Homo sapiens: one gene and its partners. The protein of the gene in region 2 purifies or fractionates together with the protein of the main gene of each other region. This does not show direct contact. Each region holds a gene or a part of one and is shown on either strand. Other genes may lie near its edges.

Region 1 (8,014 bases), on a different chromosome or scaffold from region 2:
GGCGGTAGTAAAGTCCCTGTACCCCGTCTCCCAGGGCACAAGCTCCCTAGCCTCTTTGGATCCATTGCCCCTGAGCTCCCAGAGTCACCCCTCCACCTCCGCAGCCAGTGAAGTGTGTTGTGCCTGCTGAAGTGATCACCCCCCGCCCCCAGCCCTGCATCAGGCCACAGGTCTTGGCTTTCTCCTTATCACCATTTGCTGTTATCACGGCACACAGCAGGGAATCCCAGGCCCCCCCGCCAAGTGGTTACCCAAGTCACCACTCCTGACCCAAAAATCAGGCATGGCATTAAAACGTTGCAAATTCCTTTACTGTTATCCCCCCCACCACCAGGACCATGTAGGGTGCAGTCTTTACTCCCTAACCCGTTTCCCGAAAAAGGTGCTACCTCCTTTCCAGACAGATGAGAGAGGGCAGGACTTCAGGCTGGATCCACCACTGGGCTCTCCCTCCCCCAGCCTGGAGCACGGGAGGGGAGGTGACGGCTGGTGACTGATGGATGGGTAGTGGGCTGAGAAGAGGGGACTAGGAAGGGCTATTCCAGGCTCAGCCCTGCTCCTGCAGCTTTGCCGCTGAGTGTAGGAAAAACAGGCATGACAGACCAGGGTGAGGGTTGTGCCCAGCTGGGCCACGGCCATGCGTGGGGTGGCCCAATAAACACCGTGGACTCCCAGCAAGGCTGCTGCCTGGTGTTTCGAGGCTGCTGTGGTCGCAGACAGCCGCCTCGCCTTGGCTCCCTGTCAACAAGGTGGGGGTGGGAGCGGGAGGGAGGAGTGGCCCCTGTCTTAAGAGCCTCACAGGCTGCACCAGGAGAGCAGCCAGCCTGGGCCAGGGGCCGCCAGGTCCCGAGGGTGGCTGACCCAAACGTCGTAGATGCTTTTGTTGGGTGGCACCCCTTGGAAGAGGGCGTCTAGATCGCAGAGCAGCCCTGGGGGCCCTCGGGTTTCAGGGGCCACCCCCCAGTAGGCAGGGCTGGTTGACGGACACTGGGGACAGGAGGTGGGTGGTGGTGCCAAGGGCATTACCACATTGGGAGTGTAGATAGGCAAGTAGGAGGTGGGCAGCTGCCCCCAGAGGGAGGCCCTGTGTCCCCCGCTGGACCGTCCCCCAGGAACTGCGGTGCCCTGCAGTAAGTGGAGAGGCCAGGCCCTAGGCTCTGGGGAGAGGGTTGAGGGCCCGATGGCTCCCCCCTGCACAGTCTCCCCCTCCACTCTCGTGGGGCCAGGAAGGGGGCAGAGGGGCCACAGAGGCCTCTCAGAAGAGGGAAGGGGTGGGGTGGGCACCGCCTCCTCCCCACTGTTCCCTGTGCCTGCAGGAACTGGGCTGCTCTGTGGAGCTAGCCCCGGCCAGGGTGCCCCCTCCCCGGACCCTCCTAGCAGGGACTTGATGCTGAAGCCCTCACTGGGTGGTGGCGGGGGACTGGGCGGCCGGTATGGCCGGCCGTGCAGCACGTAGGGGCCCAGGTCCTTGGCGAAGGCTCCACGCGCACCTCCGTTCTGCCAGCGCCGGCACAGGGCGGTGTTCTGCAGCCGGAGCGCCTCAGCTGGGATCAGGCTCACGTCGACCGCCCAGAAGTTGCCCTTGGCCTGGGGCTTTGCAGGGTCCTTGGGCACCTGGGTGTGGGGGTCAGACATGGGTGGGGCTGCCCAACCTTGGATGCTCAGGACTTCCGCGCGCGCTCCGCCCCCGGGCTCCGACCCTGGCCTGCCCCACCTTGCGGAAGCATCGGTTGGAGGAAAGGTTGTGGCGAATGGAGTCTTTCCAGCCCTCGTAGTCTTCCCTGAAGAAGGGGAACACGGCCTGGACCTGACGGATGATCTGAAACCGCCAGGCGGCCGGCCGGCGCCGTGAGCCCAGACGGGGAGGGGGTAGCGCCCTACCCCTCCCCCACTACCGGGCTCAGGGGCGCGCGGTGCCGGCCCCTGCTGTCCCCGAAGAAGGACATTTCTGCGCGGAAGCGCGGCAGAGAGGGCAAGGGGCTCCCGGAGAAGGGTCGTGCCTTGAGGCCCTCAGCTCTCAGGACTGGTCCCACTGGCATACCTGGGTGGGCTAGGAAGGGGTGGGGGTCAGGGCTTGAACCTGGAAGTGGGTGGGGAACGAGTCTGGGGAAAGAGAGAGTGGGGGCCGGGGCCCGCTCACCTGGGCCAGCTTCAGTCTGCGGGAGGGAGCGGCCTGAATCACCAAGGCGATCATGGCCAAGTAGGTGTAGGGGGGCTTGTCATGTCGCAGGTACCTCTTCTTCCTCCTCTTAGGGGGCTGGGAGGGCGACTCTGCCTCTGGGGGCCCCAGGCGGGAGCCGCTGCAGGGCCCCATGCGGGACGGTAGACAGCGTGGGCAGGGGCCTGGCCGGGTGGAGGGTGCAGGGCGGTGGGGCAGTGTAGAAGGCAGGGCCGGGACCTGAGGCCGGGCTGGGGCAGGCGGGCTGGGGCCTTTATCATTCGGATGGAAGGGGGAGGGGAGGGAAGGGAGGAAGAGGCTGTGGGGGAGGGGAGCATGCCGAGGGCTTCCACAATTAGCAGGTTTTGGTTAATCTGGAAGGGAGGGGCAGAGAGCATTCTAGTGGGGGCTTCTCCTGAGGCCTCAGTCTCCACCCCTGAGTTGCCTTTGGGTGGCCAGGCCCGGCTTCAAAGGGGCTGCGATGACCCATGGCTACTTTATCCCGTCTTCCCTGGTCAGGTTTCAGGACCCCATTTAACAAATGGGGGAGTATTTAGCCCATGCCAAGCTCCCAAGGCGTGGGGCGCTCCTGGAGTTCAAGATCTAGCAGCTGCTAGTAGGCCCTGAACTATGGGGGCTGGATATCCACCCAGGACATGATCAGGTGGAGCTTCCTGGAGGAGAAGGCCATGAAGCCCGCACCCTAGGAACAAGAGGGGGACACATTGACTCAACTGATTTCCTGGGAGTTGCTTCAGGAGCCCAGGTGGACCGCTCACCTCCTCCTCCCTAGCCATCTCTGCTCCTCCACCCAAGCAAGGCTGGTATTGTGTATCCTGCCCCAAAGCCCAGGTTCTCCTCCCTCACAAGGGGCAAGTTTGCCCAAGAGGATAGCAGCTCTGGGAATTAGCAGCGGTGGTTGGTGCTGGCACCAGGCCAAGGGCCCCCAGACACACGGGGGCCCAGGGATATGCTTTTGCCCTTCACTCTGAGAATTCAGCTTTTCTTGTGCAGCCTCCACCATGATAACCTCAAAGGGCTGAAAATCTGCAGCATACGGTGGGGTCCAGCACACCCTGAGGTGTGGAGGGGAGGGACAGGCAGCAAGTGTCCAGGAGGAGGAGGCCTGGGCCGCAAGGGGCCTTGTATGTGGGGTACCACACTGCTCCTGCCCCCCACACCCCCGGTCGGGTGGTGCCCCTTTTCCTTCTATCTCTGACTCTCCCCTCAGACGCCACGTGGTTTCCCTCAGGACTCCTGCCACCACCTCTCTGCTGTGTTCCCTAGGTTATGGCTGCACAATCCTGTGCCTCATGAGGCTAATACTTGTGGCCACTTCACCCCATTCGGTCAGCAAGGCGTCGTTCTTTCCTACAAGTGTTTGTTGTTGTTGTTGTTTTGAGACAAGGTCTCACTCTGTTGCCCAGGCTGGAGTGCAGTGGTGCGATCTGGGCCCCGTGCAGCCTCCACCTCCCCCGCTAGGGCGATCCTCCCGACTCAGCGTCCCGGGACTACAGGCGTGCGCCACAGAGCCCAGCTAATTTCTTAATTTTTGGTAGGGACCGGGCCTGCCTATGTTGCTCAGGTTGGTCTCCCGGGCTCAAGTGACCCACTGGCCTCGGCCTCCTCCCAAAGTGCTGGGATCACAGACGTGAGCCACCGGGCCGGGCCTTTCCCATAATTTTTTTTTTTTTTTTGAGACGGAGTCTCACTCTGCCGCCCAGGCTGGAGTGCAGTGGCGTGATCTCGGCTCACTGCAAGCTCCGCTTCCCGGGTTCATGCCATTCTCCTGCCTCAGCCTCCCGAGTAGCTGGGACTACAGGCGCCCACCACCACGCCCGGCTAATTTTTTTGTATTTTTAGTGGAGACGGGGTTTCATCAGGTTAGCTAGGATGGTCTCGATTTCCTGACCTCGTGATCTGCCCGCCTCGGCCTCCCAAAGTGCTGGGATTACAGGCGTGAGACACCGCGCCCGGTCTCCCGTAAGTTTTAAGGCACCCCCCTCTCCACTGGCGCTTCCTTGGTGGGGCGCTGGAGGCTCCCCAAGTTCTGACCGCTCTTCTCCGACCGCACTGTCCTGGGCCCGAAACCACCCCCAAAGCTGCCACCCATTCCGCTGGCGCCCGTCCCGTTGCCCGCGATGACTCGGTTTTGTCCAGCATAAATCAATGACCACCGTCCCGGGAGCCTTGGAGCACTTTGAGCCATTCCCGTCCCACCCACGCCCCAAGGAGGTCCCAGCCGCGGAGGACTCGCCCGGCCGCCCGCAGCTGTCCGCGTTGGCCCCCACCCCCGACCGTCCCTCCCCAGGCCCCGCCCCCGACATTTCCTCCTCCCAGGCTCCGCCCCCGGCTCCCACGGGGCACCGCGGCTTCCGGCTATGGGTACCGCGGGCCGGAAGTGTAGCGTTGCCATGGCGAGGGCCGGGTGCGGGGCCCGCCCCCGCAGCGCCTCAGGGAGCGCGGGGCCCACTGACCCGCGGAAGCCAGCGGACCCACTTGTGCGGCGGTCGGCGCGGGGCGCGAGGTGAGGCGCGGACTCCCGGGTCCTGCGGCGGGAGCGGAGCGAGGGAGAGGGGCCCCGGCCAGGGAGAGCAGTGGCGGGCCCGGGAAGGAGGGGCACTGGGTCGACACCGAGAGAGGAGGCCGGGCCGGGGAAGGATGAGGCAGAGGAGAGGGAGGAGGCCGGGAAGGGCGGGAGGAGGAGGAGACCGAAGGGAGAGAGGAGGCTGGCGACGGAGGAGGCCGGGGAGGGGCCCTCGGGAGACGCGGCTGCCGGCACGCGGGCGCCCAGGGCACAGGTCCCGCCGGGCCGCCTTGGGCGTTGCTGGCTGAGGCCCAGGGCAGCAGGTGCCAACGGTCAGGAAAGGCAGGGAGCCGAAGGCTGCCGGTGGGCGCTTCGCGTTTTGTTCCAAGGCGAAGGTGTGTGGATTCTCCGCAGCCCGTCGGTCAGGTAGACAGCTCCGGAATTGTCTTCATTTTCAGATGAGGAAATCGAGGCCGCAGAGAAGGGACTTACCCAAACTTAAGCTTTGTGTGGGCCTTGGAGCTAGGCTGAAGGAGAAAGTGGAGTCTCACTGGGGCAAGTTCCTTCAACTTTCAGGGATTCAAATGACCTCACTTGTAGTGCGGGGCGTCCGGACCACCCCTCAGGAATTGGGATCAGGGCAAGAATTACTAACTAAGCAAGCACCCCGCCTGGGAGGGAGCGTCCAGGACTGGTGTGGGCCCCTGTCTGTACCAGAGCGGAGGCCCGGGGCACGGTGGGATTAATTTCCATGGGTGCAGAGAGGGGAGCCGTGTACGGAGTCATTCTAGGCTTAGGGGAGACAGAGCAAAGTTAGCCTTCCCCAAACCTCTGTGCCTTCCTTTTCTTCCTGGATTCCTACCTGGGGGTGGAGGTGGAGGCGGGGGTACCGCTGCCTTTCTCAAAGTGTGTCTAGTCCAGCAGTGAGCCCTCCTGGGCGTCTTGGCGCCCCAGTTGCTTCCTGGACGTATTGGGGTTTCTCTGGGAGAAGGGTCTTGCCTGCAGTACCCTGGGCCTCCTGAAGAGGCCTCTGGTTGCGCTGCCTGATTCAGGGACCCAGAGCCACGACTCGCCGAGAGGAGCTCCGGCGGCGTGCGGCTGGGTTGCCTGAGGGGCTGGGGGCTGCCTGGTGGACTTGCACACATGCTGGCTCCATACCTGTCACTGTGGTGGACGCTCAGAGCTCTACAGGGCCAGCTGCCTGCCCCTGCCCCAAGTCCCCCGGGCTGGGGTTGGGATGGGGGTGGCTTTAGGGGGTCCTTCCCCCTCCTGGTGCTCGAGCTGGATTTCCTCCCTGTTGGCTGGGGCCATCCCTCGTGTCTCTGATTGGCCTGTCCTGGCCTCATCCCTCACCTGCTTGGGATGCACTTGGACTCTGCTTTGCCCCGAGGGTTGCCTGGGCTGGCACCTAGCAAGGGGGCTCCTCCTGTATGACTGTACTTTGGGGTCTGTGTTCTAGGGATTCTTGAACCTCTGGTCTGAATGAACAGCCGATTGATACAGCTCTCCACTGCATGCAGCTTAGGAACCTCAGTCTCAGGTGACCCCACAGACTACCAGCACCCCCAGCTCCACCCTTGCTCTTCCCCGAGCGTGTCCTAACCCTAGCACTTGTGCCACATCTATCCATTGGCCAAAATGAGAACTGGGTGGCAGTTCCAGGCCCTTCTTTCATGCCGAGGCTCTCCTGGCACTGGTGCACGCACACCTAAAGGGAGGCCTTTTCATCAGACTTGCTCAGCCAGGAGCTCAGAGCCTTCCATGTCACATCCTGTGCTGGGACCCCTGTGCCAGAGGCTCAGCAGCTGTTCACTTGTTCAGCTCACTGCACTTACTGAGTGCTGCCTATGAGTCAGGAACTGGCCAAGTTCTTAGGATGCAACAGGGAAACAAACAGTAACTGGCATGTCAAGAATTAAAACAAGGTGATGAGATAAGAGAATGACAAGGTAACCACAGAAGATCTCTGAGGAGGTTGCACTTAAGATGTGATCCGAGTCCCACAAAGGAGCATGCTGTCCTAAGATCCGGTGGAAGAACTTTCCAGACAGAAGGAGCAGCTGATGAAGGTGGCGGTGATGATGAAGCTGGTAGCACCAAATAAATGTGCTAGACCAGGGGTTGGCCAGCTTTTACTGTGAAGGGCTAGGCAGCAAACATTTTAGGCTTTGCTGACCATGTGGCTTTCTGTTTTTTTGTTTGTTTGAGATGGAGTCTCACTCTGTCGCCCAGACTGGAGTGCGGTTGCACAATCTCCACTCACTGCAACCTCTGCCTCCCGCGTTCAAATGATTTTCCTGCCTCAGCCTCCCCAGTAGCTGGGATTACAGGCACATGCTACCATGCCAGTTAATTTTTATATCTTTTTTTTTTTTTTTGAGACAGAGTCTTGCTCTGTAGCCAGGCTGCAGTGCAGTGGTGCAATCTCAGCTCACTGCAACCTCCGTCTCTCGAATTCAAGTGATTCTCCTGCCTCAGCCTCCCAAGTAGCTGGGACTACAGGCGCATGCCACCACGGCCAGTAATTTTTGTACTTTTAGTAGAGATGGGATTTCACCGTGTTGGCCAGAATGGTCTCGAACTCCTGACCTCATTATCCTCCTGCCTTGGCCTCCCGAAGTGCGGGGATTACAGGCGTGAGCCACTGTGCCCAGCCCATGCTTTGATTTTTTACATCAAACTTTATTGAGGTGTAACTTACAGTAAGATGCACCTATTTTAATGGGTTTTGTGTGATGGGTTTTGTTTAATGGGTTTTGTTTGATGGGTTTTTTTTTTTGACGGAGTCTCATGCTGTGTCGCCCAGGCTGGAGTGCAGTGGCACGATCTTGGCTCACTGCAAGCTCCGCCTCCTGGGTTCACACCATTCTCCTGCCTCAGCCTCCCAAGTAGCTGGGACTACAGGCGCCCACCACCACGCCCGGCTAATTTTTTGTATTTTTTTAGTAGAGTCGGGGTTTCACCATGTTAGCCAGGATGGTCTCGATCTCCTGACCTCGTGATCCGCCCGCCTCGGCCTCCCAAAGTGCTGGGATTACAGGCGTGACCACCGCGCCCGGCCTGTTTGATGGGTTTTGTGAACAACGTCATAATCCAAATATAAAACATTTCCGTTGCCCCCAAAAGTTCTCTCGTGCTCCTCTGTGGTAAGCCCTTCCTCACACCCAGCCCAGGCAATAGTGATCGCTTTCTATTACTGTAGGTTTGGCGTCCCTTTTTAAGAATTTCACATTGGCTGGGCGTGGGGGCTCACGCCTGTAATCCCAGCACTTTGGGAGGCTGAGGCGGGTGGATCATCTGAGGTTGGGAGTTCGAGACCAGCCTGACCA
Region 2 (8,004 bases):
AAAATGAAAAAAAATGAAAAATTCAGTTCCTCAATTGCACTAGGCACATTTCAAGCGCTTAGCAGTCACATGGGGCTACTGTCAACCGTGTTAGATGACACAGATACCAAACACTTCCATTGTCACAGAAAGTTCTATCGGACAGTGCTACACGCCACTGTAAGCTCTGGAAGACAGAGACTTGTCTTTCTGGTCCACTACTGGATCCCTGGCACCCAACATGCTGTGAGGCCCAGCACTGATGCTGAACATCAAGAGACTGAATAAATGCACACACTACCACACACTGCACATGGCCCGGAGACAGCTCCATTACCTGTCTCGCACTTGCTCCCCCTGCCGTCAGACCATGGCTTCTAGCCAAGCTTTGACCCAGGGCCCTGGCCCAGGGCCCTGACCCAGGGCTCGTGGCCCCCTTTCCTCCCTCCAGACTCTCTGGTCTGTGACGGGCTCAGGGTCCTGGAGCCATTGTAAGTGACTATGTGTGTGTGCTTCTGTGTATGTATGTTGGGAGCAGGAGTAGAGAAAGAATTGGCAGGGGTGGAAAGACGCCAGGGTTCCAGGTCTCAAGAAACTCAGGTTCAGGCCTCTGGCAATGGTCACTCTCACCTATACAGCCGACTCAATTCTGAATCTCGAAGATGTGTGACTTTGGACAAGAAACTAACCTCTGCAAACCCACTGTATTCCCTGTTGCTTCATTGTAAAATATGGATAATACCTATTTCATATAGGTAGTGAGTGCAGTAAATAAGATGTCTGGGGCTCTGTTGATACTCAATTACTGTTTGTTTCTTTCTATACATAGAGGGCAGTAAAAATCTCTTCTTCAAACATCATTTAGATTGTGGCTTTCAGGGCACGGTGGCTCACGCCTATAATCCCAGCACTTTGGGAGGCCGAGGCAGGCAGCTCACCTGAGGTCGGGAGTTCAAGACCAGCCTGACCAACAAGGAGAAACCCTGTCTCTACAAAAAATACAAAATTAGCTGGGCATGGTGGTGCATGCCTGTAATCCCAGCTACTCGGGAGACTGAGGCAGGAGAATCGCTTGAACCCGGGAGGCACAAGTTGCAGTGAGCCAAGATGGTGCCATTGCATCATTCCAGCCTGGGCAACAAAAGCAAAATTTGTCTCAAAAAAAAAAAAAAAAAAAAAGCCGGACATGGTGGCTCACGCCTGTAATCCTAGCACTTTGGGAGGCCGAGGCAGGCAGATCACGAGGTCAGGAGATCGAGACCATCCTGGCTAACAAGGTGAAACCCCGTCTCTACTAAAAATACAAAAAATTAGCTGGGCAGGGTGGCAGGCGCCTGTAGTCCCAGCTACTCAGGAGGCTGAGGCAGGAGAATGGCATGAACCTGGGAGGCAGAGCTGGCAGTGAGCAGACACCGCACCACTACTCCAGCGTGGGTGACAGAACGAGACTCCGTCTCAAAAAAAAAAAAAAAAGATTGTGGCTCTCAGACACCTGCATGGTTCCCACTTATCCCACATAGGAGGCCAAATATAACTCCTGACAACTCCTTTTGCCTTCAAGCAAGAGGCTTATTATCATCAGTTCCACTGCTCTTATCTCCAAAGGCACCTGGCTCAGCCTCTCTGTGCCAGCCAGCTAAGTTAGTTTGGCTTTCTCTCCCCCACCTTCACGTCATATTACATACCTGAAATACCCTTCCTGCCCGCTCTTTCCAAAACTCAAGCCCTGCCTTCTCTGATGCAGATTTTTTCATGAGACTCACTTCCTCTCTTAAGCCTGCTTGACTCAACCTTCCCAGTTTCAAGATTGCTAATCACAATGTGATTAGTGACTATGATGCAAGGCTGTACCTGGCAAATCTGCACTTGAGGGCATCTGTGTTCCCAAGTATCTGGTTGCGCCTATGAGTGTGCACAGAGCAGGAAGCTAGAGAAGGAGGTGACCACCAACAAAAGAAGGCTGGTGGTGAGGTGGGAGGGCTGGACCAGACTAGACACAGGTCCCATTTGGCCACTTATTACATGGGTGGCCCTCAACAAGTTACTTAATCTTTCTGAGCCTCAGCTTCCTATTACTATACTGAGCCCTTACTTAGTACAGACACTATTCTAAGCACTTTACATAGATTCTTTTATTTCAGCTTAACTTCAACAGATTAACTTCAACTGCAGCAGCTAGATAATATTTTTCCTATGTTACTGTTGAAGAAATTCAGACATAGAGGAAACGCAATACAGAAGTTAAGTAACTTGCCCCAGGTCACACTGGGACAAGCAAGTGGCAAAGCTAGGATTTGTAGCCAGGCAGTCTGGCTCCAGGATCCATGTTCTTAATCACTCTGCTTACTGCCTCCTACCTGTAATTCTGTGTGTGTGCACATCCCTCCTATGTATGCAAAACTCCCATCACAGTGGCTGGCACAAAGAGAACCAATAAATGGCTTAACTCTTTCCTCACTGGGACTACAAATACACAGGGATAGGAAAAATGTCTCTTTTCGAGAATTTGTTATAGGATCTAGGAAAGGACAAGTATATAATGGACACTTTACATACATTTCCAGGGGCTGAGAGAGGTGTGAAGGATATATAAAGATTTAAAGCACTGGCGGGGCATGGTGGCTCACACCTGTAATCCCAGCACTCTGGGAGGCCAAGGTGGGCAGATCACCTGAAGTCAGGAGTTTGAGACCAGCCTGGCCAACATGGTGAAACCCCGTCTCTTCTAAAACTACAAAAATCAGTCGGGTGTGGTGGTGCATGCCTGTAGTCCCAGCTACTCCAGAGGCTGAGGCAGGAGAATCGCTTGAACCCAGGAGGCAGAGGTTGCAGTAAGCAGAGATCGTGCCACTGCACTCCTGCCTGGGCAACAGAGTGAGACCCTGTCTCAAAAAAAAAAAAAAAAAAAATTTAAAGCACTACCTTCTTACCCAGGTGTGAGTTATAAACACACACATGCCACATGGACACACTATTCGCAAAGACATCACACACGTGTACGTGTGGTACACACACACTCACTAGCCACCCTGAACCTCATAAAGGCTCCACCAGAAAACCTTCTTTGCAGTAGGCACAGGGAAAAAAATCACAGTCTTTAAAAGTACATATGAAGGTCTATCAAATCAGACTGGGGCATTTTAGAGAACTTCCTCGAGGTGCCACTTGAGTTACATTTTTTTTTCTTTGTACTGTGGAGTTCAAAAAGTTAAATCTTAAAGATAAACAGGAATTACTGTGGCAAAGGAGGAGTGTGGAGAAAGGAGAGTCAAGAGGGAACAGGCTAACATATTTAGGAAACTGCAAGTATTTCTGTAGGCTGTCATGAAGAGTTTTTGGCAGGGTCAGGCAGGATATACAGCCAGAGAGTAGGCAGAGCCCAAATGCCAATAGGTCTGATGTGCTGAGCTGAGAGATTACAATTCTATCCTGAAAAGGAGCCACTCAGCACTTTTAGGCACAGATATGACGTCAAATCTGCATTTTAGAAAAATGGATTCAGTAGCACAGAGGATGGACTGATAACAAGGGATGAGGTGGAGAACACTGAAAAGACTTTCAACAATCTGGAGAAGAAATTCGGAGTTTGAACTCCTAGTGGCAGTGGGAAGAGAAAGAGTATTTAAGCGAGTTTAAGAAGTGAGGAGGAAATAGTGCCATTCACTACAATAGAAAACATAAAGGCCAATGTTTAGACAGGATGGATGAAAGATAATTTATACCTTTTGGCTTTTGGAGTTTGAGGTGTCTCTGGGACACCAGGTGATATCCAACAGGTGTTTGAATATGTATGTGCATGTATATTATTTATTGTTATTTAAGCTTGCAAGACATCTGGGCTGGAGATATAAATTTGGGTGTCATCAATTTACAGGTAGTAATTAAAACAATGAGTGTGGATGAACTCACCCAGAGAAAGTGTAATGCCAGATTTGTGGGCCAAAACAGCTCTGAGGAGCTCCAACTCGAAGCAGTTGAAGGCTTACATTTAAACATTCTCCCAGGAACAGTGGGTGAAGTGAAAAAGGGGTGAGGAAAGGGCCCTGGAGATCACCAACATTTAGGGGTGGAGGTGAACAGATGAGAAGAGAGAGGCAGAGGTGCAGGAGGAGAAGCCAGAATGGGGGTGTCAAGTATAAAGAAATGGGTAGCGTCAAATGCTTCAGAGGTTAGAGAAAATGACAGGAAACTCCCCCTGTTAGATTTGACATCTAGAAGGCTGTCGGTGTGGCCAGGGTGAGGTCAGTGGAGTAGTGAAGGTGCGGGTTTCCGGCTGTTGGAGAAACCTCTTCCACTAACTACATTGCACTCTGAGTTACCAACTGGCATGGTCCTCCCCCCATTTCACACGCACGCTACAGTCGCCCGTGCGCACTCGTACACACCAGGTGGCTAACAGGTACGAGGCGTTTCCGGACAGCGAGCGCAGAGCCCCCGCGCACGCGCCTCCGAGCCGGCCTCTTCCGCCGCAAGTCCCTCCCCAAGCCTGCAGAGTGCGCTGCGTTTCGATGAGCCGGGACGTGGCGCCGCTCTAGCCAGCGCCTGGGCTCTGTGGCGGGCGCCGCAGCTCCGCGTCCCCCGCGCCTCCTCCCAGCGCAGGTGGGTCCGCCCGCGGGGGGCGGGGGTGCCCGGGAGCCGTGGGACGGGCGGGTAGCGGCAACCTTTGGGGAGCAGAGTGGTCCCCAACGCCCAGGTGCCCCGGCTCGCGCTCTGGCCCGGGCGAATCGGGCTATAGGAAGGGCCACACGGATGGAAGTCCTAGTCCGGGTGCTCACCTCTTGTGGAACGTGCAAAGCCTGTCCCAGGACCTCTTTACACTCTGGGGGTCTCTGCCCAGGCACGCTTGCTGCTTCCGGACACAGCTGTGGGCGGAGCTAGTAGGGGCGGGGCTACGTGATTGACACTTCTCTCCTCAGACTTCAAGGGCTACCACTGGACCCTTCCCCTGTCTTGAACCCTGAGCCGGCACCATGGTGAGAACCCTGAGCCCAGCCCTTCACCTCCGCAGGCCCGCGCCCTCACCCCCAGTGGCAGTGCCATGGTTGCCCCGTATGAACCTAGGGCTCCACAGTGTGGGGTTTTTGCAGGTCAGCTTCTGCAAGGCAACCTGCACTCTTCCAACCCGTTCATCCTTGTAGCACGGACGCCTGAAGGTGAAGACGTCAGAAGAGCAGGCGGAGGCCAAAAGGCTAGAGCGAGAGCAGAAGCTGAAGCTATACCAGTCAGCCACCCAGGCCGTATTCCAGAAGGTGGGGCCCTCAGAGGTAGCCCCGACCCCAAGTAGCTCCCTTAGTATAGTGCAGAGGCCAAGAGCTGGTCCCTAGAGTCAGACTGCCTAGATCCAATTCTGGGTTATCTCACTTATAACTGTATGACTTTGGGCAAGTTGCTGAATCTCTTTGGGCCTCAGTTTGCTCATCTGTAAAATGGGGCTAATAATTGCACCTACTGCATAAGGCTGTTGTGAAGATTAAATGAGAGAATACCTGTAAGGCCATAAAGCATGGTTCATAGTACCTGTTGTATAATGTGGGATTCACAGAATATTGGATGGTTTTAAGTTTACGTTATTTAGTCCTGTAGTGGGAAAATTATATGATCTCTAACCCTGCCACCTATCTTCTTAGCGCCAGGCTGGTGAGCTGGATGAGTCCGTGCTGGAACTGACAAGCCAGATTCTGGGAGCCAACCCTGATTTTGCCACCCTCTGGAACTGCCGACGAGAGGTGCTCCAGCAGCTGGAGACTCAGAAGTGCGTAGGGATTCAGGATCTCAGAAGACTGCCCTGGCCCTGCGCCTGCACTGCCTGGGTCTAGGGGTGGAGGAGAAATGGGGCAGCCAGTGGCATAGATGGAGGATAGTAGGGGGCTGGGTGCAGAAAGTGAGGGGTGAGCTGAGGTTGACTGTAGGAGAGCCCTGACCCCCCCCTTCCCTTCTGGGTACAGGTCTCCTGAAGAGTTGGCTGCTCTGGTGAAGGCAGAACTGGGCTTCCTGGAGAGCTGCCTGCGGGTGAACCCCAAGTCTTATGGTACCTGGCACCACCGATGCTGGCTGCTAGGCCGCCTGCCTGAGCCCAACTGGACCCGAGAGCTGGAGCTCTGTGCCCGTTTCCTGGAGGTGGATGAGCGGAACTGTACGTGGCTGCAGATTCTGTCCCCACAGCCCTCACCTGCCCACATTCTGGTACTGGGGCCTCAGTAAGGCCCAGAATGGGGAGGGATATCCAGGATGGGTCCACTGAGCTGGTGCTGAAAGGGATGTTGGAGCCAAATGCATCCTCCGTGGAGTGCACTGAGGTGTTTCTAGGGGTTCCTGAGGGGACTCTAGGGGTCCCAGCCAGGTAGCTCCTCTTGCCCTGCCTCTAAGATATGCTGTCACCTCTCCCCTCCAGTTCACTGCTGGGACTATCGGCGGTTTGTGGCCACACAGGCAGCCGTGCCCCCTGCAGAAGAGCTAGCCTTCACTGACAGCCTCATCACCCGAAACTTCTCCAACTACTCTTCCTGGCATTACCGCTCCTGTCTCTTGCCCCAGCTGCACCCCCAGCCGGATTCTGGACCACAGGGGCGCCTCCCTGAGGATGTGCTGCTCAAAGGTAACCAGGGTCAGGGATGCTCAGGAGGACTCTGCAGTGCCACCCTTCCAGCCCCCATGCCTGACCCTGTTCCTGAACCTGTCACTCAGGTTTATTGAGCACCTACTTCATGCGTGGCTCCAGGGGTGCTTAAGAATCAGTCCCTGGCTGAAGGAAGCTTAAGTGTCTGATGGGGAAGATAAAACTGACATACGTAGCCCCTGTGCAAGGACAGCATATAAGTGAGACTGGGGGCTGGAAGTACTCCAAGGAGAGGGTAGGGTGTTGGAGTGGCCAGGAGCTCACCAGTGTCCTGACCACAGCCCCATGCCTCCTGGAACCCCACAGAGCTGGAGCTGGTGCAGAATGCCTTCTTCACTGACCCCAATGACCAGAGTGCCTGGTTTTATCACCGTTGGCTCCTAGGCCGAGGTGAGCAATGAGGAAAGGGGCTGGGTGTTTAGCGCTTAATAGGAATGGGAGAGGGTTTAAAGAAATCTGACACTGTCTCCCCGCAGCTGACCCCCAGGATGCACTGCGCTGCCTGCATGTGAGCCGGGACGAGGCCTGTCTGACTGTCTCCTTCTCTCGGCCCCTCTTAGTGAGTCCTGCAGCTTTTGTCAAGAGCACTGTGGGACTGTGGGCCTGGTGCTGATGGGGCTGAAGTCTTTGTCCTTTGTGCCAGGTGGGCTCCAGGATGGAGATCTTGCTGCTCATGGTTGATGATTCTCCCCTGATTGTGGAGTGGAGGACCCCAGATGGCAGGAACCGGCCCAGCCATGTCTGGGTATCCCAGGATTGGTGGGGCAGAAGTTGGGGTCTGGGGCAGGGCTGGGTGGGACAGTCAAAAAAGTGGTTAGGCTGGGGCATTTCCTTGACCCAGTACTCCCAGCTCTGTGACCTGCCTGCTGCCTCCCTCAACGACCAGTTGCCCCAACATACATTTCGCGTCATTTGGACAGCAGGCGATGTCCAGAAAGAATGCGTGCTTTTAAAAGGTGATGGAACCTGCAGCCTCCACCCCTTGCAGCAGCCCCCATCACTCTTTTCCTCTCAAGGGTGCACCCTCCAACCACCTACTCTTTCCCCAGGCCGCCAGGAGGGCTGGTGCCGGGACTCCACGACAGACGAGCAGCTATTCAGGTGGTGATAGGGAAGCACAAAACAAGGAGAGGGGCTCTGGACTCTGGGCATCAGGCAGCCAGGGCAGGAGGCTGGGGCCTCAAGGAGCTGTTTCAGTCTAGATACTGGGAATGTTGACCAGTGCTTCAGGGCTGTGGGCCTCAACTCCTCCCCACCCTGCCCACCCTCAGGTGTGAGCTGTCAGTGGAGAAGTCCACAGTGCTGCAGTCTGAGCTGGAATCCTGTAAGGAGCTGCAGGAGCTGGAGCCTGAGAATAAATGTGAGGCCCCATTCCGTGAGAGTCTGCTCCCAGAGCCCGCTGAGGAAAC
Region 3 (7,596 bases), on a different chromosome or scaffold from region 2:
AAATATAGCTCTTTAAACTTGCTTCTATTTAGGCATCTTTCTTAATTTATCTCTATGTAGTTATATAACTTTCTTTAAAAGTCTCATATATATTAATAACCAAACACACTTTTTAAATTGCAGTTTGTCACTGCTAAGATGTAGAAATGAGATTTTTAAAAATTGTGTATCCTGCAACTTCTTGAATTAGTCTTTGTTAGTACATTTTTATACTATAAGTTTTAGCAGTTGTAAAGCCATGTTAATAGAAAATATTTATGCTACTTTCCTTATCTTCCTCATTTTGTGAATGCTGGCTTTTATTGCAATGACAGGTCTCTTTAACCATATATAAAAATAGTGCCAACACTGTTTACTTTCCACTTGAGAAATGTTTATGTTTTCCCAGTAGGAATAATGGTAGTTCTTGGTTTAAGTACTTAACAGACTCCGAGAAGTCTATTAAATCATTGCCAGAGAAATAATTAAATCAAGGGTGAATGATGAATTTTTGAAAAGTTATCTGTAATTAATACTTTGGATTTTACTATTTGTTCTTTTGATGCTGATTTAATGGCTGTTCTGCTTAACACCAGCCTTATAATCCTGAGTGATAGTAAATTATTTGTTGCTGTATTGTTTGCCAATATTTTATTTTGCATTTTGCATCTGTTGAGAATAAAATCCTTCTAAAAATGTCTTTTAGTACTGAGAACATGTCTGCCTCAAAAGACAATTTGAAGCATACTGTCCTTCATGATACATGGATAGACATTATTTAAACATTTGAAAAAGTTCACCAGTAAGTCCATTAGGGTCAAAGTCCAACCTGTCAGAAAATTATACTGGGTTACAATATCCCCTAAATTTTTAAATGCTTTTTATTGGTATAACTTCTCATTTCCCACTTATTTTGTATTAAGAAATATATTCATTTTCTTCATTTCTAAATCAACCTTTATTTTCGACTAATTTTTCCTATTTCCATTATATTCGGCTATACCATCTTTTGCAACTTCTGATTGTTCCTTTTCTCAATTTCTTATGAATAATCTGTGATACTGAAAATCTTTTCGGTAGATCTGGAATACCTTCACCTTCATTTTATTTATCATCTTATGTATTTCTCATTTTAATTACTATTTTATAGGTCTATTTCAAGTATTTCAGTTGTTCTGTTAGATTTAAACTTTAGGATAAAGTTTAAATATGACTTTTACTATATTTTTAAAAGTCAATACAATCCATGACTTTGCTACTTTAAGTAAGTTGTCAATTACTTAAATCTGTCTAGTCTCATTTTCCTCACATATAGAGGAGCAAAAATTAGTGTATTCCGAACAAATTTTGGCCTGATAATATTTTTTGTAACACAATCTTCAGATCATGAGATGTGTTACTGAAGAACATTTTGTTAAAATTTAGCCAAATTCTGCTTCGAGATCCATGCTCTAAAATATGTTTGTTTAGTTCATCTTATCTTCACATTTCTCTGATTCAATAAGCTGCAGGACCAGTGTGTGCTTTTTACCCCCGGCAATGCTAGACTAATTTTCGTGGGCACTTTCTCTTTCTCCTGCAGCGCCTACACTCTCTAACAGTGAATGTTAGTAGAAAGATCAAAGGTTTTAGAATCACAAAAGGCTGGGTCCCCATGTTGGCTCTTCCACATACCAGATTCTGAGCAAATTACTAATAATTCTCTTATTTCTTCTTTGAAGGTGATATGGTTTGGCTGTGTTCCCACTCAAATCTCATCTTGAATTGTAGCTCCTATAATTCCCACGTGTTGTGGGAGGAACCTGGTGGGAGATAACTGAATCATGGAGTTGTTTCCCCCATACTGTTCTCATGGTAGTAAATAAGTCTCACGATATCTGATGGTTTTAAAAGGGTTTCCCTTTTCACTTAGTTCTCATTCTCTCTTGTCCACCGCCATGTAAGACGTGCCTTTCACCTTCCACCATGATTGTGAGGCCTCCCCAGCCACATGGAACTGTGAGTCCATTAAACCTTTTTCTTTACAAATTACCATCTCAGGTGTGTCTTTATCAACAGCATGAGAACACACTAATACAGAGGGTACATGCGAATTTGCCTCACAGGATTGTTGAGAAACTGTCATGAGAAAGCATAATACTAGGTACCAAACACATGATAAATACTATTTCAGAGCAAAAACTGTCACAGGGATCATCATACTCTGACTGAAGAATGGAAACTGGACTAGAGGAAAAGCAAGTTCATGTCTTCTGACAGCTCCACAGGTTTTCACCATTAGAGTACTACCAGTTTTATGACGTTGGGTGGCTCTGGGAGAAAAAAAGTTTCTATACTCTGGATAACAGCTAAGAGGCAAGAGAGATTACAGAAAATTGTTACTTCACAATTTGTTAAGTGGGACACAACCGAAAGGGCATGGTAAATCCTCCTTTGATTCATTCCTATCAGTTATGTTATAGTGATATTAATTAAAGTGGTAGAGCCAACAAGGTGGTATGTTTCATTCTCACTGAAAAACCTTGGGTAATCTATTTATAGAGGGTTTTATAAGTATCTGTAATCTCAGGTTAAAAAGGCCTCACTCTGTTTCTCCTTAGGAATTCCTAAGAATTCCTCCTTAGGAATTTCAGAACAGCCCTTCTGAAGTATCTTCTCCTGGGGCACTTCATTTTTCCTTTTGGTCTAAGTTACTTATTGGAAGCTATTTTAAGTGCCAGGGCAGGGCTCTGCAGAAATTTTCTGAAGTATTAAATAAGAATAAATCTTATCTTTCAAATTTCCTTTGCAATCAACCTCCCCAAAATGAGCTTTACAACCACTAATTGAACTCCAATTCTTTTTGTAAATTAGAATACTGTGGTGGCATCATTGCCTCATCAGTTACAAGGGTCAAGTGAGTATTATAAACTTCAGACCTTCACAGTGCATAAAGGATCATGCAAAGCTAATCTTTAAACGATTATAGACAAATGTATTTTATTATCATATTGGCATTTGTATTAGTTGCTATTCCTACCACCATGTCTATACATTTATATTATATGCAAAAGATCCACATAATTTACCATTTGTGTATGTTTCACTATTCGAACAGGCCGCAGCAACTGTAACAGCTGCAAAAGTAATTAAAATATTACTTGGGTATTACTAATTGTTCTGTAGACAAAGATAAAATCTGAAGATCATTAGCAAATACATTACCTTTAAGCTGAGTTGCTAATATGGAACCCTTACATATATACCCAATACTAAAATAAAGCTAACTCTGTTTTAAGATTCTGGGTCATATAGCCCATTCTAAACAAAATGTTCAATAATCAATAAATCACTCATTGATAGGTTAACAAAGATATTCAATGCTGAATGTCTGAGAGTTAAAGACAACATCTGCATAGCATTCATCATATATAACCACTTCTAATTACTCATATGGGAAACTGTCCTTTAAATGAGAAAATTCTGATGCCATGAAGGAGGTCCAAAACAGCATTTCGAGATTGCTCTTTTCTAATTTTGAAGGTGCTTCTCTGGGCTTTCTAGGTTTTTGCTTTCCTCAGAGGATTCTAGTTTGGCCATTACTACATTATTGGTTCCAGGAGCCTCTGGCTGCTTATCATCACCATCAAAGATAATGTCTTCTGGATTTGGAGGTGGAGGGCAGAATTCTTCAGTTGGAAAGATCTCCTGGAAAAGTGTTTCAGCTTGCTTGACAGCATGCTCATTTCCCAGGCCACAGTCAGGCCCAGAGCAGACATAAACATTGGAAGGCAAGCCATTATACGAGCTTCTGCTGATTCCCGAGGAATCTCTCATATTAAAATAAAGAGCCCACAAGAGTCTTGGCTTTGTAAGTTCTTCCTCGTTTATTTCTGTTTCAGTATACGGAGTGAATAATTTCTTCACCACTGATTCTAAGTCTTCTCTTGCTGTTTTAGAAGATGAACATGTCAAATGTACCAGATAGGTGTCCTTCATGCATGTCATGGTTGAAGAACATAATTCTGTGACCCGTACAGCACAAGCTCCTGGCTCTGCTGGAGGAACTATCAGAATGGAAGTCTGCTGATCTAAATCTGTCTTTAGTATAGACTGATCTGTAATGAGTACTGCCCTAGAGATCTGCTTATACTGCACATTTGAGCATGTTTCCTCAGAAAGGTAACTGTCTTCCACAATAAAATATTTAGCATTTATTCTTTGACCAAAGTGATCTATAATTGCTTTACATCGTCCAGATTCTTTGTCGACTACAAAGCATTGTACTTTATGACGAAGACAATAGATTCCACCAAAAACTGCACACATCCTACAGAAACCCTGGGGAATTTCTCCTTGGCCATACAAGGGAAATAAAAAGGGGGTGTTGCCAAACCGTCCGAGACACTGAAGGAAGTTTTTAGTTGCGTTAAGACCATCTATTGTAGTGCAAGATGATTCTGATGTCATTGCAATTGAGTGCAGTACAAAATGTTGAAGGTTGGGAGTTAGTTTTTTAGTTTTTAAGTATTCTGAAAATGAACACTGCCTGAAAGCTTGGTATTCATCAGGATGTTGTTCATACTCTAAACAAAATGTGAGAAATTTCATTAGCATCCTCTTTTCAACCATGGTGAGTTCCTTGCTATTAAAGACATCTGCTCTGGAACAAGGAACTTGTTCTACCTTTCCTTCCCGAAATGCAAGAATCCTAGTGACATTTTTAAATTCTACATAACGACTAACATCTGATTTGATTAAAAGATCAATTAGCAATCCTTGAGAATACAGCAGTTTTGACACCAAATCAATATTAAACCTCCTGCCTTCTTTAACTATTTGAGAGTAAGTAATCCTATTTCTAATTGGTTCATCGGCCTTATCTTCTACTGTAGATTTGCTTTCATCTTTATCTCCATCTTTATCTGAAACTGTGTGCATACAAGTTTTATCTCCACAATACTTTTCCTTCTCCACTGATTCCTCTACATCAGTTACTTCTAGTGAAATCTCTGTATCACTTTTCTGAGTGTGTTTTGCAGGCATTTCGTCGCTATTAAAATACGATAACTGGCTTTCTTCAGGTAATGCAGAATCCAGAACTTCAGTGAAGGTATTAGACACCCCCAAAGAAGGATTTTTCTGCAGAGCACCAATCTCTTCAACGTTGTCCTCCATATCCTGACTGGCGTAGCAAAAAGCTTCTGTGTGTTGAATAGTTTCATCCTTCTTGCGAAGAGTGATGGCTTCTTCTGTTTCATGGATCAGGTCCTGCCATACAACAGTACTTTCTTCCCCAATGTCATTGTTTTGCTGATACTCCTTCAACCAGGATAGCAATCCTGAAAAGCTGAAACTAGCCCAGTTTCCTCCATAGTAGCTTCTTGAATCAATATGCAGAACCCTCTGACCACTTCTTGAACATGCAGCTGCAAGGATGGATTCGGGCAAACCTGTCCCTATTATAACCACATCAAACTCTGTGGGAAGATTGTCCGCCATTTTAGGAAGTAACAGCGTCTGGTGACAACTGCTGATGAAAGAAATGAGGTGTGATTATGCTGTAATAAAATCTGTCCTTCTGATGTTCCAGTTATCCCAGAAGCACTGAAGTTGCAGGTCCTAGCTGTTTAACGGTTACCCTTTTAAAATATTTTTTTTCTTATAAGTCAGTAGCATAAAAACATGAGCAAGTACATCTAATCACATCTGAGAATACTAAAATGGATGTGTGGTTTCATTTCTGCATTTCATCTTAGCAGTAAATGTCAAAATGCATCATATATGCATTTGTGACTGGAACTCTTCTCTGAAAGAAGAAAATTCAAGAAAGAATACATTGTAAACAATATAAGAGAAAAATAATTTCATGCAACAATGACAATCCATTGGAGTGTGACATCTTATTTGGACATAAACCTCTACTAAAGCATGTCTTAAATGCTTTCTCACATATTTTCTAATTTCTTGAGAATGGACAATAGAGATATAACAGCCCTCCCAAGAATCAGGCAACATAGTAATAGAGAATGAACATAATGTTCCACAAAAATAAAGAAGAAATAACATAATACAATTCTCTAACTTTAGCTTTTAAGAAAACTATCATGTGAATAAATCTATACACAGCTGTGAGCTTAGACTAAAAGGAACGCATGGCTCCACTGTTTATAGAAACAGATTATAAACTATGTGCATACTGCCATGATTCAAAATATTTCTGTGGCCATTACAGTCTATGTGTGATTCCAGAACAGCTGAATATAAGACCTTTCCATGCCACAACCACCCTTAGGATCTCATGGTAGCAACATGAGACTATTTCTACTCAATTACTAGTCAGATTATTACAAAAGGATTAATTCAGTAAAACAACTGGCCATTTAAAAATATTTAGGCTCATAATAGCCCTGAGGAGGAAAATGTATTAAAAATATTATATGAATGTACACATGCATATAAGTAATAAAGGAAAAAAGTGTGTAAGTGTAAGTAAAAAAGGAAAACTTCTGATTTCATATTAAAATATCTTAACATAAATAATACCTACTTCTAACATTTGAATACAGTGATGTTTGCATTTCGCCACTGTCTCTGCAACCCTGAATCTCTGCATCCCAAGCAAAAGGTCTATCTAAACATCCTCTGCCAAGACTAACACTGTTTGTTCTTATTTTTGAAGGGGAAGTTTAAAAAAAAAAAAATAATAAGGTTCTCCTGTTAACTTTGAGCATAATGCTGGTTACATTCCATGTGCGGAAGACATCTGTGTGATGCCCTGTGTGGCCAGAGGTAGAAAGGCCAAGGTGCTGAAGAGCATACTCACCTGAAAGTCTTTAGGCTAAAGCAACAATACTGCTAAACTTTCTAATATTCATCATTGCACAGTTTTGAGCTCTGGTTTTCACTACTGTTAAACCTACTGAAATATAAATCAGTACAAGCTGTACCTGTCTAGCCCAAGATGACTAATAATCCTGGATACTGGAAAAACAAGCCATTCAATTGGAACTTAGATTAAATTGCATAGGGCACACACCTTTAGTTTAACTAAAATGGCAATCCTAACAGTCCTGTCTAGTCAAAGCCTCTGTCTCAAAAATATCAAGGATTCCACTCATTTTTGGCATTCCCTAAGAAGCCAGGAACTAAGTACAGAATGCAGCAGTTGCCTGGCCCACTCAAGTATAAATATAAGTATGTCTGAATTACTTATTCTGCTTCTTCCAGCAGGGTGTGAAGATGGAGACTGAATCTATGATGGTATCTGAAGAGGTGTAACCATAGTACATGCTGCTTCTTGGCTTAGAAAGACAGGGCTCAGGGTAGGAGTAGGAGCAGAAGACACAATCAATAAGCGCTAAGATCAGGCACGTTCTAACCTACAGATATCAAAGGGGTCATCAAAATGCAAAGCAAGTAGGATGGCCTTACAGAGCATTAAGCTGAATTACCCAATAATAGAGATGAGAGAACTGATAGCTGGAGAGATTAAGTGACTTGAGAAAGCCCGCACAATGCATGAGTCGCAGGATAAGGAACAGGATCCACTCTTGTGCCATCAGACCAATGGTCTTTCCAACAGATAGGGCAAGCCTCTCCAAAAGCCTCTGCATCAAGAAGCTACTTCCCTCATTT
Region 4 (7,596 bases), on a different chromosome or scaffold from region 2:
TCCAGCCTGGGCAACAAGAGTGAAACTCCGTCTCAAAAAAAAAAAAAAAAAAAAAAAAAAAAAAGAAAGCATCTACCCAATGTCTGTATTTTTAAAATGAGAAATAGCATTTTTTCCCTGACTGCTCTCTTTCAACCCTTGCCACTACTCTCTAGGAAACAGACTATGAAGAATTACTGAGGCTCAAGGAGACAATCTTACAAATGCCACGGCTAAACTCCAGGTCTCCTAACTCCAAATCCAGAATTTGAATTATTAATAAAACTTTATTCTGAAAGTGTTCAATAAGCACATGTAATATTTTGAAAGGTTTCTGTTTTTTTTTAAGTAGCTCAATTTATTTTTTATATTTGGCCTTTAAAGGGTAAGCTTTGATTATCTGAAAAAGTAAATTATGAGGACTACCTCACGACCTAGGGCTGGATAAGTGAGGTGCCCCTGTAAGTCATGGGCCTTGCTAAAATGGGTGTCCTAATGCATAATAATGCACCAAGGTGGCCTGGAGGGACGACAACCACCCCAGGGTTTTCTGTGCACTTTTACTCCAAAAAATTTTGAGTTTTACACAGAAAACTTCCCAAGAAGTACTCAAAGAAGGAAGAAAGTCAGCTGCTGATTTCCTTACTTCTGACCTTAAAAACCACTCAGGGAACTTGACACCTCTGGCTGCTTCACCTTTATTTTTTGTTTAAACACCTTGAGAATTAAATTCTTTGTTAGAATGTAGAAGAAAGTCTCCTTTCCCATTCCCTCTAGAGATAAGACCCAATAAAAGATTTTGGGGAAGTCCTTCTTATTTTTCCTATGCACAAGTGCATGGGTGTGAACACACATGTACAAATGCACACTTTGTCTTGTCTTTCTTGCCCCCGTCTTTGTTTCTGAACTCAAGGACGGCTCCTGCGGCAACAGAAGACTGTTTCCATCTGCTGTCACTCTGATTTGATTATATGTTAAACCCAAACTGGTGTGAGGCAGCTTCCCGGGACGCTGTCATATCTTCCCAGCTGAGCCCCAGCCAGACCTTGGAAAAGAGACTTTCCACCCCGGTGAAGAGTCTGATGGGGAATATATAAAGGAGGTGGCGCCTGGGGGCTTTTTCCTAAATCAGCAGGAAGCAGGCTGATGTCCCAGACTGCTGAAAGGAGGCCCCATCTTTCAGGTGGGCTGGAAAGTAGAAGTCCTAAAGGCCTCTTTCCCCAAAGCTCCAAACCCTGGCCCACTTCCAATGTGGATAATTACATTCCCCTTCCCTAAATGTTCCCTGCAGCTTCAACTGGATGCAGGATTCTTCTTTTCTGCCTTAAAACACTGCAACATTGCTATGTGGCAATTAAACAGCTGCCATGTCCCATCCCAGAGGAGGCCGAAGGGAATCGAGTGGGTCATTTATAAAGCCAGTGAAGTGCTTGGGGATGAAAGTGCTCAATATCCTCCAAATGCAGCCTGGGGTGGTTAGGCTGGCGGTCAAATACCAAAGCAGATTAAGTCGGTAATCCGAATGTAATCGCTGGGGGATGGCCTGCCCTTCAGCCTCAGCCCCCTTGGACATGCTGTGTTCTTCTCAGGCTGGTTTGATGTTCCGATCATTGTTGTGGGGCCTTCAGTTTTTTCCTCTATGAATACATGCAGCAATCATTGTGGGGGGTGGGAATGAATAGCACTGAGAGGGTAGGAAAAAAACAGGACACTAACATGCTTATTAACACCGACGGGAGGAACTCTGTCCCAGACTGACGCACACCTATTGGCAATTCTTCCTCTGTAAATTACTTTGAATTTTTCTAACAGAAAACTGGTTTGGCTAATTATCAAATTTGTATACTTAGCTAGAAAAATGGAAACTATTCCTATTTATTGCCACAAAAACCATGTCCCTACTTTACTTCATAGAATGCACAAGCAAAAGCCAGCTCAACCCCTGGGATTATTTATACTTAAAAATTAATAATGGAGAGTATTTTGCCAGGGCAGCAGTGGTGGATAGGAAGAAGAGTAAGAAAAAGATCTGCTGTTCTAGAGCTGGGCCCAGTGGCTCAAGTGAGGTCCTCCTGTCTGCCCATCAGTCCACACTCAGGCCTTTCTGGGGAAAGAAAAACAGTAAGAAGAAAAGAAAGTTGGATTTAAGTGTTCTCAACTCCCAGCACTATGTTGTTGAGGACTAAAGCATGGGCTCTTAATTGGACAGAACTAGGCTTAAATCCTGGCTTAGAAACTAGCTACATAATTCTCAACAAGGTGCTTAACCTCTTTGAGCTTCCATTTTTTCCAAATGTAAAATGGAGACAAGAGTATCTACCTCATAGGGCTTTAACGAGGACGAGTAAATGAGGTAATTCACGTAGAGCACTTAGCATGGTGCCCAGTAAGAGTCACGCTATTAATATCATTATTAGGTCAACTTTAGCCAAACAGTGTTCTCCTGTGAACAGTCTTCTCCATTTCTGCTTTTAAGAAAGAGGAGTTTGGAAGCCATGGTCTATTCCCCACCTGCCACTAGGAGAAGTGACAGGTTAATAAGGGATATCAGGGCACATGGTGCTACAAATGAAGAAACCTGGACTTGTTTTTAATTTCAGTTTCATATCCAAGCACAACAAAGAGGCCTGGGTTTTATTTGTTTGTTTTTACAGCCGCAGCAGCTATAGCTGTTTTATTTGCTCTGTGTGGAGGAGTAGAGAAGTGGCACGGGGGGCTGGGAGTGAGGAGCTGCGGCTATTCTCTGGCCTGGTTATGGTGGTGGCTAGTCCACGTGACCTCTGCTTTCATAAGTTCTCCCCTGTTAGGCATTCCAAGGCTGTCATCCCCTGGGAGCACTATAAATTACAATGCATTGTGAGGATATTACTACTGTATTGGTTTCCACCGAATCAGTGTCATATGCTAAACACATCAAGATTTTTAATAGCACCAGACTAAACCAACTGGGACTGGAGCCCAAGCAGCTCATAATAAGGAGGGATCAACACTTCACTGTGCGACTGAACATGCGCAGGACAAACATTTTAAGACTGGAGACTGAGGGAATGCAAGCCCGTGTAATCCATGTTGTCGGTTCTAGACATTTATGAGCTGTCAGAAAAAAGGAAAAAGAAATTCCCTCACCAATACTACCTGTCGATCAGGCCCAGGAAGAAATTAAAGCCAAGAATAATGACAAGAAAATAAACCAGCCTGTGATTCCATCATTGGTCTTAGCATTTCAGATGGAACTTAATAAAGAGACCAACTCCCACTGCTGACAGCCTTGGGCCCTGGGTCAAAGAGCCAGCCACCTAGCTCTGGGAAGCTGGTTAATGCTGATGTGCACACCTGGGAACAGAGTGGACAAATCAAATAATTCCCAGAAATCTGAGCTGGAGCCCCTACCCATGAGCCTGTTCTTAGAGGAAAGGCGCTGCAGGAATGAAAGTGACCACGCTGCAAAATCACTGTTTTGACCCTCTTTGACTGAGATGTTCTTCAAAATAAGGACCATATTTTATAGTGTTGCCTTTGAGGCAAGCTCAGAAGCTCTGCCTCTGATACTCGCTTGCTCCTGGTGTGGCTTTAGAAAACAAAACAAACAAACAAAAAAACAAGGAAAAACAAATTGTGAAAGTCTGCCCTTATCCCTCCTAAACCTACAAGGCTCACTTCCAATACCACCTCCTCTGTAAAGTTTTTTCCCAACTGTTTCTCTACATCTTAGAATTACTCCCTCTCTCATTTGTCTGGGGTGAGGGGTGGGGATGAATTTTACTGGTCAAAAGGACTCGCATTCCACTTTTGGTGCCCAGATTATGCTCAGGAACGTTGTTGTCTCGAGGGCTTCCGTCTCTCCCAGCCTCTACATTTGATCTGGGCTCCTACCTCAAGCCTAAGGCTAGGAGTGTTCATTGTGCTTATGTCAGCCCCAAGTATTACTAAAGGCCCACTGGGAGCCTCTGTCACTTACCAAGTAGTTCACTCGTCTTCTCGTCATATTCTTCAGCCATTTCCTTGCCGTCTGGGAATAAATAGTGAACCTTCCTTCTCCCTATGCACAAAACAGAGAATGCCTTACCTCAAAGTCTCCCCTTGCCCTGTCCCTTGCAGATCAAGGGGCCTACCTGGGAAACAGTGCCAGCCTTGGGAGTACTGAGGAACCCAGCCAGGACCTCCCCAAACTCCTTGCCAACCACCACCCACCATTACTTTAAAACGTGTCCTGAGACTCTCTCCCTTTCTGAAGCTTTCCTTGAACATCTTTGCCCTGCTGTTTCCTCTACCAGCAACAGCTCCATATTTTTTCCTATCTGTGGAACTCTTCTTTGCCCTTCAAAATCCAGCTCAAATGTCACTTCCACTGGGAAGTCTTCCTCCACTATCACCTCCAGCCACTTTGGTAGGATTAATCACATCCTCATGTGTGCCTCCCTAATGTTTTACTCGTATCCATAGTGGAGCATTTACTACATACCATGATACTTTTAAAAGCATTTGTCTTCCCATGAATGACATCGTATTTATCTCTCTATGTGTTCAGGACATTGAATTGGGTTTCCTGACCAAGCACTCCCTCTAGCCATGCCAGTGCCCTGCCTTCTTCTGCATATCTCCAGGCCATTCCTATCACACAGTAACACAATGTTAAGTCCCCATGTATTTTCTTCATGGCACTTAATTTGGTTATGATTTTACATCTTTTTATGTGACTCTTTGATTACTGCCTATCTCTTCTACTAGATAGGAGGGGTTTTATCCCCATGCTATGGTTTCCTAAAGACCAAGTGTGGCTCCTGGCATATACTAGGAGCTCAACTAAATACTGATTGAAAGGATGAATAAACACTGATGCACTATCCGTTGAAAGAACAGAAGAAACTAAGGGAGGCCAGGAGTTCAAGACCAGCCTGGCCAACATGGTGAAACCCCATCTCTACTAAAAATACAAAAAAGTTAGCTGGGCATGGTGGTAGGTGCCTGTAGTCCCAGCTACTCAGGAGTCTGAGGCAGGAGAATTGCTTGAACCCGGGAGGCGGAGGTTTCAGTGAGCTGAGATTGTGCCACTGCACTCCAGCCTGGGCAACAGAGTGAGACTCTGTCTAAAAAAAAAGAAGAAGAAGAAACTAAGGGAGTCTCCTAGCCCAATTCCTCTACCCCTGGAGCATTTGCTTAAGAGTGGCTATGTAATTTCCCCTTTCTTTTTATAGGTAGGGAAGTAGATACAGGCAGACTCCTCAGTAAAACTAGTAACAGAGCACTAACATCCAGTAGACAAGTACCCTATGTATGCTTGATGAATAAGAGCCCCAAGGTGCCTTTTTCCTGTCCAATTCACTTCTCTGGGATACAGTTCCCTTGAGCCATTCCTAATCTGTATTCTGCATAAACTCACCCCTAAATTTGCAGGGCCTCTAGCAGAGCCCTAGGTAATACCACCCTTAATCATTTGGATGGCTCACAGGCATTAGAAAGGGCTCTCCTGTCAGGAGCGGGATCCAAGGTACTGCCTGGGAGGAGCTGAGGGGGTCTTGCCTGACCATCTTCTCCCCTTGGCATCCAGCCTTGAGTCCAGGCAGGATGCAGCGCTTACTAAATCCAGGCATTTCACATGTCTTATCAAATTTAATTCTCACAATAATCCTATGTGTTTTCATTACCTGTATTTCATAGATGAGGAAAAGTGAGGGTTTTTTTTTTTGACAGAGTCTCGCTCTGTCGCCAGGCTGGAGTGCAGTGGTGTGATCTCGGCTCACTGCAACCTCTGCCTCCCGGGTTTAAGCAATTCTCCTGCCTCAGCCTCCTGAGTAGCTGGGACTACAGGTGAATGCTACCACACCCAGCTAATTTTTGTATTTTTAGTAGACACAGGGCTTCACCATTTTGGCTAGGATGGTTTCAATCTCCTGAGCTCGTGATCTGCCCATCTCAGCCTCCCAAAGGGCTGGGATTACAGGCATGAGCCACCACGCCCGGCCAACTGAGGCTTTTTTTTAGAGTGTCTTGCTCTGTTGCCAAGGCTGGAGTGCAGTGGTGTGATCTCGGCTCACTGCAACCTCTGCCTCCTGGGCTCAAGTGATCCTCCACCTCAGACTCCCGAGTAGCTGGGACCATGGTTGCACACCACCATGCCCAGCTAATTTTTAAATTTCTTTGTAGAGATGGGGTCTTACTATGTTACCCAGACTGATCTCAAACTCCTGAGCTCAAGTGATCCTCCTGCCTTGGCCTCTCAAAGTGTTGAGAATACAGGTGTGAGCCACCACGCCTGGCCCTTAACTTTGTTTAAAGTGGGTTTTCCCAAACAAGTGTTTTTGTTTTTTAAGAGTGTCTGGCTATGTTCCCTAGGCTGGAGTGCAGTGGCTATTCACAGGCATGATTATAGCACACTACAGCCTCAAACTTCTGGCCTCAAGTGAGCTTCCTGCCTCAGTTTCCCCAGTAGCTGGGATTACAGGTACCCAACACAGGTGTTTAGTTTTTATAAAGCCAACTATATATTTTCTTTCTTTGTGGTTACTGCCTTAGAAGTTGCACTCAGAGCATCTTCCCTTACCCAATGATTATTCGATACTTATCTATACTTTGTTTTAATAGTATATTTATTCTAGAAATAAATGTATATATAAATTATTAAGTATATTAGTATATTTTTGTAAAAGAAAAATAACTGTGAGTGTATGCATGAAATAATATAGAAGTTTATGTATAAAAATATAAATTATGGGCTGGGCGAGGCGGCTCACGCCTGTAATCTCAGCCCTTTGGGAAGCCGATGCAGGCGGATCACCTAAGGTCTGGAGTTTGAGACCAGCCTGGTTAACATGGTGAAACCCTGTCTCTACTAAAAATTAAAAAAAAAATTAGCCGGGCTTGGTGGCGGGCGCCTATAATCCCAGCTACTCAGGAGACTGAGATAGGAGAATCGCTTGAACCCAGCAGGCAAAGGTTGCAGTGCGCCGAGATTGCGCCATTGCACTCCAGTTTGGGCAACAAGAGTGAAACTTGTCTCAAAAAAAAAAGTAAATTATGATTATCTGGGTGGTAATATTATATTTGACTTCTTTATTTTTCATATTTCCACAATGAATGTAATTATTTCTTAAAAAAACAAAAGTAAAATGGAGTCTCATTATCCAGCCCAAGATATCAATAGCCATGATTCTTGGTGGAAGGGAGTAACCTCCCCCCTACTCCCCACACCCCTCCTACACACCCAGGGGTAAATCTGCAGGTTTGACAAGGCTTAACCACATATGCAATACTGAGTTGTTTTTCAGTCTGGGGATAGGGTGGAATCTTAACAATATCATTTTGTGATGCTACTAACAAAAGAACTTAACAAAATCCTGGCTGATAAAATATTTGTTTAAAAACTTCTGTGACCAAAAACAGTGAAAGCAGGGACTCAAGTGGATATTTGTATACTCATGTTCAGAGCAGCATTATCCACAATACCCAAAAGGTGGAAGCAACCCAGGTGTCCATCAACAGATGAATAAATAAACAGAATGCAGTGTAGACATACAATGGATATCACTCAGCCTTAAAAAGGAGCAAAATTTTGACACATGCTACAATATCCATACCTCTGTGCCCACCTCTTCCAGGCACAGCCCTTGGTCCTTGCTC

What was found.
Region 1: the proteins of RABGGTA (region 2) and PPP1R16A purify together in Homo sapiens (co-immunoprecipitation; 2 studies listed by BioGRID and IntAct, with this or other methods). This does not show direct contact.
Region 3: the proteins of RABGGTA (region 2) and CHML purify together in Homo sapiens (co-immunoprecipitation; 4 studies listed by BioGRID and IntAct, with this or other methods). This does not show direct contact.
Region 4: the proteins of RABGGTA (region 2) and DPCD purify together in Homo sapiens (affinity purification with mass spectrometry; 2 studies listed by BioGRID and IntAct, with this or other methods). This does not show direct contact.

The regions. Positions count from the first base shown.
Region 1 is NC_000008.11:144,473,443-144,481,456, forward strand, and holds the start of PPP1R16A (protein phosphatase 1 regulatory subunit 16A), read left to right. Parts: upstream 1-4,539; 5' UTR 4,540-4,685; intron 4,686-4,908; exon of another isoform or gene 4,909-5,111; intron 5,112-5,143; exon of another isoform or gene 5,144-5,240; intron 5,241-8,014. Other genes in the region: kinesin-like protein KIFC2, read left to right, coding at 1-8; FOXH1 (forkhead box protein H1), read right to left, coding at 796-1,614, 1,715-1,819, 2,141-2,314. UniProt on the Homo sapiens protein: Inhibits protein phosphatase 1 activity toward phosphorylase, myosin light chain and myosin substrates.
Region 2 is NC_000014.9:24,268,061-24,276,064, reverse strand, and holds the start of RABGGTA (geranylgeranyl transferase type-2 subunit alpha), read left to right. Parts: upstream 1-4,467; 5' UTR 4,468-4,578; exon of another isoform or gene 4,579-4,895; 5' UTR 4,896-4,949; coding exon 4,950-4,952; intron 4,953-5,117; coding exon 5,118-5,228; intron 5,229-5,606; coding exon 5,607-5,731; intron 5,732-5,924; coding exon 5,925-6,112; intron 6,113-6,370; coding exon 6,371-6,574; intron 6,575-6,901; coding exon 6,902-6,985; intron 6,986-7,071; coding exon 7,072-7,154; intron 7,155-7,238; coding exon 7,239-7,340; intron 7,341-7,445; coding exon 7,446-7,551; intron 7,552-7,644; coding exon 7,645-7,696; intron 7,697-7,866; coding exon 7,867-7,955; intron 7,956-8,004. UniProt on the Homo sapiens protein: Catalyzes the transfer of a geranylgeranyl moiety from geranylgeranyl diphosphate to both cysteines of Rab proteins with the C-terminal sequence -XXCC, -XCXC and -CCXX, such as RAB1A, RAB3A, RAB5A and RAB7A.
Region 3 is NC_000001.11:241,630,307-241,637,902, forward strand, and holds part of CHML (rab proteins geranylgeranyltransferase component A 2), read right to left. Parts: intron 5,889-7,596; exon of another isoform or gene 5,768-5,888; coding exon of another isoform or gene 5,727-5,767; 5' UTR 5,492-5,726; coding exon of another isoform or gene 5,461-5,491; coding exon 3,490-5,460; 3' UTR 1-3,489. UniProt on the Homo sapiens protein: Substrate-binding subunit (component A) of the Rab geranylgeranyltransferase (GGTase) complex. Binds unprenylated Rab proteins and presents the substrate peptide to the catalytic component B.
Region 4 is NC_000010.11:101,591,080-101,598,675, reverse strand, and holds part of DPCD (protein DPCD), read right to left. Parts: intron 4,019-7,596; coding exon 3,938-4,018; intron 2,084-3,937; coding exon of another isoform or gene 2,037-2,083; exon of another isoform or gene 662-2,036; intron 1-661. UniProt on the Homo sapiens protein: May play a role in the formation or function of ciliated cells.